2 linked regions of the Homo sapiens genome follow. The protein of the gene in region 1 interacts with the protein of each later gene in a pairwise test. Each region holds a gene or a part of one and is shown on either strand. Other genes may lie near its edges.

Region 1 (3,915 bases):
GCAGTTGGGAGGACAGCCTTTGCCATTTCTTTAATTTTTTTATTATTCATTTATTTATTTATTCTGAGACGGAGTCTCACTCTGTCGCCCAGGCTGAAGTGCAGTGGCGTGATCTCAGCTCACTGCAACCTCTGCCTCTAGGGTCCAAGCGATTCTCCTGCCTTAGCCTCCAGAGTAGCTGGGACTATAGACACACACCACCACACCCCGCTAATTTTTGTAATTTTAGTAGAGACCAGGTTTCACCATATTGGTCAGGCTGGTCTGGAACTCCTGACCTCAGGGGACCCACCTGCCTTGGCCTCCCAAAGTACTGGGATTACAGGAGTGAACCACCACACCCGGCTCTGCCCTTTCTTTGACCCCTCCCAGACTGGACCATCTTGCTACTCTCTCCAGTCGTTTTCACCTTGATTTCACAGAACAAGAACAGGCTCAATAAAGCATATGTCCACGTGGGGAACTGTCAGTCAGTCTTCCTTTCTTGCACTGTACACACTAAACTTTCCCAGCATTTCTCTCATGGCTGGCTTGCTTTGGCTTCAGAGGGACATGCCCTCCACACCCTCCCCACTAGTTATGCTATGGTCACGGAGGGTGTTACTGTCAGTCCGGCAGAACTGGTTGTGCTTAGAAGTCATTCAGGGAAATGGCTGGCCCCAGGGACTTTAAGGGGATGCTTAACACCTTTTGTTCTCAGCTTTGGGCCTTGGCTGTCAATTTTAAGAAAACCAGTTCCCACTTAGCAACTAACATCAGACTGTTATTTTGTATGAACATATATATCACAAACAATAAATACACACAAATCTCCCTATTTTAACTTAAACCTCTGATTTACACTTTGCTTTATTCATTTTCCCACAAATACTCATCTTTCCAAATTGGCACATATTCATCCTCCCACACCGCACAGTGCTTCCCGGGCACCTGACCCGAACTCCAGCCCCAGGTAGAGAATCCTTAGGATCTAGTCAATCTGTGGTGGTCCTAACCCCCTCTGGTGGCTGGTTCAGGCAGGGGCATGTGAAGCAATTGTGGCCAGTGAGTTTTGAGGGATGACAGCTGGCAAAGAGCTCTGGGAAACAACTTCTTTATGCTTAAAACCACACAAATGAAACATTTTTTCTTCTTCCTCTGAATGTGCTGCTTGGAGCTGCTGTAGCCATCCTACAACTGTGTGAAGTGGGGGACCCATTCTGAGGACAGAGCTGCTGATACCTGGAAGTGGCAAAGTAGAAAATGACAAGAACAAGGATCCTTGGTTACATCATACAGTCCCTGAAATAACTACGGAATTGCTCCACCTGGTAATGCAAGCTAATAATTATTATTATTATTTTAGCCATTTAGAGTTGGATTTTTTGTCCCTTACAGCTAAAGTAAGGCACTATCCCAACCCAAGCACATACAGATGGATCTAACTTATTCTTTTTTGTTCTTTTCAATGGGCCATACACTAATTTACAGAACCTCTCCCCTACTGACAGGCATCCAGATGATTCCTTGAAAAACAATGCTGTAATGAGCATCCTGATATGTATCATTGCATAACTAATCAAGGCTAGCCACAGGATAAAGTATTAGGAGTAGAATGGCTAGGCAAAAGGGCATGTGCATTTTAATTCCAACAGAAGGCAAAACAGCCTTTCAGAGAGGTTGTACTCTTTCTCCACGCCTTCACTATTATCACTATTATCATAGGTGACATGAAACCTATTATTTCATCTCTGCCATGTTAATAGACTAAGTCCTTTTGTTATTTCTTTTGTGTTTTAAAAATCATGAGAAACTGAGATTCTTTTTGTCTGTTTAAAAGCCATTTCTAGTTTTTCTGTGAGCCTAAGAAGTTCTTTATACAAAAGACTTTAAAAGACTTTTACAGATGACATCAAAAGAAGGCAATATGAAGCTGATTTACTTTCTAAAAGATACAGCAAGTAAGGTTCAGGTGCATATTTACCAGTGAGTTAACATGATACAAAATGAGAAGACCTTAAAAAGCCCTTAAAATTGTAAAAGGGGAAAGGTTTTAAACTCCTATTGCAACACTGCATTTTGGAAACTAGTTTTTCTTAAAGACTGCCAAGAATTGAGAAAAAAATGCCACTGATAATGGTGAAATCTATAGTATTCTCAGGCTACAAGCTTTACAGCATATTTTTAAACTCCAGTTAAAGTCAACGGAGGACCACCCACAGCAGGTGTCTCTGTCAGAGACTTCTCCAAATTCCTTGTTATCCAGGATAAAGTTTTAGACTTATCATAGAAAATGCTAACATTTTCTACTATCTCCTCATGCAATATTTACAAGGGACTATAGGCAGGGAGTGATGCTGCAGAAGGTAAGCAAAACCAAAAACCACCTTACCTCGAGGGCCTAGCAATGCCTTGAAATAGGTACTAAGTGATGCATCAAAATGTTCCATTTGAAAACCTATTAAGAAAAAAAAAGATACTGATTAATCTCTACTCAAAATGTTTTTTATACAGTATTTTTTCATAAAAGAATAAATTCTTTTCAAAGAATATGCTACAGACAAGGTTAAGTTCAGTTCCTTAGGTTAAAAGAATTTAATTCACAGAAGTGACTTCTGTGCTAGATCTAACTTGAAGATCAAAAGGAAAGACACAATTCTGTGAGTTCACTTTATAAATGAAGTGCCAGTTTTCTGAACTTCTTTTCTTAGTTCCATAAAAACTCTTTCCGTGAAGCTGAAATCTCAGTGGGGAAAAAAGTGGAACTAACTGGAATGAGAGGTGGCAGACAGGAAGAGATCCTGTCTGGGCAACAACTGAGGACTTGAGGTAAGACAAGGAAGAGCCATATCAGGGAACAGAATGCCACAGTGACAAGACAGTTTTTTCCGCTTGTTACTTTTATCAATTATTATTTTACAGTACTTCATATCTACAGTAAAAAAAAATTCAAGTATTAAAAATTAAAAAAAAGGGGCAAAAATCTCATTACTTCCCTCAACCTCAATCCCCAAGCCACGCATCACAAGGAACCTAATGGTAACATTTCTTCAATATACTTCCAGAGATTTCTCCTCTTTTGAGCACAAAGAGGTCATGCTAAATGGATGTTTTCACAATTGTGGGTGAAATCTACCATTAGTAGATGATCATGTCAACTTAGCATTAAAAATAATAATTGATCATAGTAGAGAATCAGAATGCTTTGCTCTCAGTGAGAATGAATATAGTTTTATAAAACTTTAGTTTTATTATATCATATTTATAAGTATAATGTACTTAGCTGTGATGTAAAATATATTCTTACTGTGGGGATCACAGTTAAAAAAAACTAAAAAAACACTATTATATATAGAAGTGTGTATATATTACTTGCTTATTTTCACTTAATAAAACATCTTGAGATACCAGTTAAAGATTTACCTCCATCTTCTAAGATTCTATAGCTCCCTACCTTCCCCAATTTAAGATTTACATTTAGAGGGTAGCTAATCAACTTTTCATATGCATACTGACTAGATTTTCCAACTTTCCTGGCCATTCTTCTTACAGGAATAATCATCAATATTATAACGTCCAAGGGCAAAGGCAGAACTGATTTTATTAACTAAGCTGTTAATCATTTAGCAATACTTCTCTTCCTTGGCTTGCCACACTGAAGCGTTATGTATTCACTGGCTAATTTTAAGATAAACTACTTTATCCACGAAATCATCTAATGGTTGTAGTAGTTACAATTAAGTCAATCCAGATGAGATGGGACGTAGAGATAGGAGGAGCCATCAATGACACTTTCAAAGTAGTTAACAGGGTTCTGTCCTGACAGCTTTCCTGCCCAAGGGTGATTGGGGAGGCTGCTGACACCAATTCATGGCTGGAAACGAAGGCACCAGCTCCCTGAAGGCACCAGCTCCCCGAAGGCACCAGCTCCCCATA
Region 2 (3,915 bases), on another chromosome or scaffold:
ATCTGCTGACCTTCTCTCCACTATTATCCTGTGACCCTGCCACATCCCCCTCTCTGAGAAACACCCAAGAATGATCAATAAATACTAAGGGAACTCAGAGGCCAGGATGGATCCTCCGTACGCTGAACGCTGGTCCCCTGGGCCCCCTTATTTCTTTCTCTATACTTTGTCTCTGTGTCTTTTTCTTTTCCAAGTCTCTCGTTCCACCTAACGAGAAACACCCACAGGTGTGGAGGGGCAACCCACCCCTTCAATTAACCATGCGGCCAAGAGTCAAACCCACTAGTTTGCCTTCAAAGTCCAAGATCTAACTATGACATCAAGACACTGTCCCTTCAGTGCCCTCCCTCTCAGGCTCTAGTACGAGCCACTGGGGCCCCAGCAATCCAGTACATGCTTATATGCTTATTTCTTCTCCAAGTGTGTGTTGTTCTCTTTGCCGCTGGAGATATATCTTACTCTGCCTTATATTCTACTTATTTACTCACTAATCTCATTTCAAACATCCCCCTCTCCACCTCACCCCGAATCCAAAGTAGAAGGGCATGGCCTCAAGTCTAGGGACCACACCGTTTGAGGCTGGACACATGTGCAACACTGGAACCTGTCTTTCTAATAAGCTTACCAAGTAATCCTGATGGAAATCTTCACCCTAAGTCACCACCTCTACAACTAGGGGTCTCAGAGATGAAAGCCAGGGCAGAGGGAGACTCTTACCTACCCCTTGGGAGACGGAGAAAGACACAAGAATCCTAAAAGCAGCTGTGGCTCCAGCATCTGGGAAGGGAATGGGACAGAAAGTGCCTCCAAGATGGACTCTGTCCTACTCTTCTTTCAATCCCCAGACCTTAACACTGGGCATGGCACGTAGTCGGTGTTTAGTAAGTGCCTGCTGAGCAGCTTGTTTCACTCATGGCACCATCCCTGGCAGGGAAAGAAATAGCAGCAGAGTCACCAATGCATGTAACCTGCCTGCAGCAAGAAGTGCCCCAGACAGGAGGCTGCAAAGCTTTAGAGCAGGGCCTTCAGCCTAATCCAGGTAGGTGGGTGGAAACCAAACACAGCCTGCTCCAGAGCTACAGGGCAAGTGCTGGCGTAGAAGCCAAAATATGTTATTTCCTTGTGCGGTTTCATGAGACTAGGCAAATCAGCACAGAACCTGGAAGGATCCCAAGTGTACCACTCTTCCTCTCTGTATTAAGTGTCCTGGAGCAAGAGCAAGCTGCTGTCACTTTGTGAGCTAGATACATACTTACTAACTTTCAAGATAAGTACAGGGTGCTCCTGAAACACATACTGTAAGAAAGGGAAGGGGGATGATGAAGAAGGTGACATACTTTGCAAGAAGCCAGAGGACCCACTACCAATATTCCAAGTCAAAGAAAGCTTTGGACAACAGATGGGATTTCTTGAGCTATTTGAACAAAGATGTTAATTCATATCTAATCCCTCCATTGCCTCATCTTCTAAGTCCTGTCCCACTCCAATTACTCCTGCACAAAGCTACCAATACAAGGGCCCCAAATTCTTCCTTTGTCAAATCATGGGCTGCTCAGATCCCAAGTGGCTGCCAGTACTAACCTCAGGCCCACGCTTCAGGTTACGCCCACCGTCACATCCACAATAGACACCTTGACCCTGGTGTTTCCAAAGGGCTCCCTTCAAACATCTACTGCAAGCACAACACACCACATGTACACTTTATCTTGGTTTTTTTTTTTGCTAAAGGACAGGCAGAGAGCTAAGCCTCCAGCACAGCAGCTGGAAGGATTAAAGGCTCAGATGCTGAGAAGGCCCACTTTCTGGTAATTCCACCAAACCTCAGCCCAGGACAGAGAGAAACTGCCAAGGGAAGAACTATGAACAAACAGGCTCTCCAACTCCCTCAGTGACAAAGCAGGGGAAGGGAAATTCCCAGTGAAGTGAAACATAACTGCTCACCGCAGCAAAGATGGGAGACAATGACTTGAGATAGACAGCAACTGCAGTTGCACTTCCAGATTTCTTTACATCTTGCTCCAAAATGTAGGTCCCTCTGAAGTTTTAAAGTACATTTTAAGAAAGTATTAATATCTCACTAACTATGAAATACTAGAAACTGATTAAAGTCAAGTCAAAGAGGAAGAGTTTTTTATCTCGGGTTTAATAGGTTGTGCCAAAAACAGAAGCTCTGAGTATTTACCAGCTAAACCCCACTAGGTCCGAGAGCCACTGAGAGTAGCATCTGTCTCGGGATAAAATGGGGTGTTTAGTTGAAATGCAGACTATTAATGGACCTAATTTCTGGGATGAAACCCATTAATCTGCATTTTTAACAAGCTTTCCTGGGGACTGATCCTTCAAACAAAGTTTGAGAACAGTTCTGTTCCTGGAGTACTCTGATCCTGGAGTACCCGCCTAGTCAATTCATGTCACTTTCCAAGGACACTTCAGGCTTCCCAAACACATTGGAAAATAACACATGTAAGGTGAAAGCTCCCCAAATGCCCTTTTCATATTGCTTTGAATTGATCTACCCCAGCTGCTGTGCAGGTCCCTGGCTTATTTCTGTATCCCCAGAGCCTGGAACACAGTTGGTACTCAATGAAGAATTGCTACCAGCCTGGGCAACATAGAGAGGCCCTGTCTCTACAAAAAAAAAAAAAAAAAAAAAAAAAATTTAAATTAGCAAACGTAGTGGTGCACAACTGTAGTCCCAGCTACTCGGAAGTCTGAAGCAGGAGGATTACTTGAGTCCAGGAAGCTGAGCCTGTAGTGAGCCATAATCATACCACTGCACTCCAGCCTGGGCGACCTTACATGATTTTGAGCCTGGAGTCCAGAGAACTGCATTTCAATACTGGTTTAAAAGCAAATATGGCCCGGGCGTGGTGGCTCAAGCCTGTAATCCCAGCATTTTGGGAGGCCGAGGCGGGCGGATCACGAGGTCAGGAGATCGAGACCATCCTGGCTAACATGGTGAAACCCTGTCTCTACTAAAAATACAAAAAAAATTAGCCAGGTGTGGTGGTGCACACCTGTAGTCCCAGCTACTCGGGAGGCTGAGGCAGGAGAATCACTTGAACCCGGGAGGCGGAGGTTGCAGTGACCTGAGATCATGCCACTGCACTCCAGCCTGGGTGACAGAGACTCCATCTCAAAAAAAAAAATTAAAAATGAAAAAGCAAATATGGTGATCAATCACCTTCATTTCTTCTTTTCTTCTTTTGATGGAACTTCTCAGAATCTTTCTTTTTAAAGAAGAGCTTTGTAGTGGATTTTTGTCATCTGGAGTGCTTTTGGCGGGGGCATGGGGGATACCCAACATCTGAGACCACGTTTGTGAGCTGGGTGGGAGGCAGCCCTGCCTTGCATTGTGAGGTCAGCTGAGGCGCCCAAACTGTGTCCTGGTGGAGCTGAGCCATGCTGGGCCAATCAGAAGCTTTCTTCTGGGCCTGGGCCTGCGCACTCTGAAGCAGGACAGTATCTAATTCATTCCAGCAATGATGGCAGCAATGCCAGTAGCCACATCCAGGGTCCTGTTCTGGCAGCCGCAGCCACCCACCCATCAGGGGTCCTGTGGCATGTCCTAGATTCCTAAGCCTGGCTAGCCAGCCTTGCTGCCACTTACCTAAGCCACCCAGGGACCATCCTTTCAAGAAGTCCTTTTATATATATACATATACATATATATATGTATATGTATATATATTTTTTTATTATACTTTAAGTTCTAGGGTACATGTGCACAATGTGCATGTTTGTTACATGTGTATACATGTGCCATGTCGGTGTGCTGCACCTATTAACTCGTCATTTACATTAGGTATATGTCCTAATGCTATCCCTCCCCACTCCCGCCACCTGACAACAGGCCCCGGTGTGTGATGTTCCCCTTCCTGTGTCCAAGTGTTTTCATTGTTCAATTCCCAACAA

What was found.
Region 2: the proteins of ELOVL5 (region 1) and PROM1 interact in a protein complementation assay, tested with the Homo sapiens proteins (one study listed by IntAct).

Annotation. Positions count from the first base shown.
Region 1 is NC_000006.12:53,293,271-53,297,185, forward strand, and holds part of ELOVL5 (very long chain fatty acid elongase 5), read right to left. Parts: intron 2,438-3,915; 5' UTR 2,430-2,437; coding exon 2,372-2,429; intron 1,222-2,371; coding exon of another isoform or gene 1,013-1,221; exon of another isoform or gene 818-1,012; intron 1-817. UniProt on the Homo sapiens protein: Catalyzes the first and rate-limiting reaction of the four reactions that constitute the long-chain fatty acids elongation cycle.
Region 2 is NC_000004.12:16,077,380-16,081,294, forward strand, and holds part of PROM1 (prominin-1 isoform 1 precursor), read right to left. Parts: intron 925-3,915; exon of another isoform or gene 1-924. UniProt on the Homo sapiens protein: May play a role in cell differentiation, proliferation and apoptosis. Binds cholesterol in cholesterol-containing plasma membrane microdomains and may play a role in the organization of the apical plasma membrane in epithelial cells.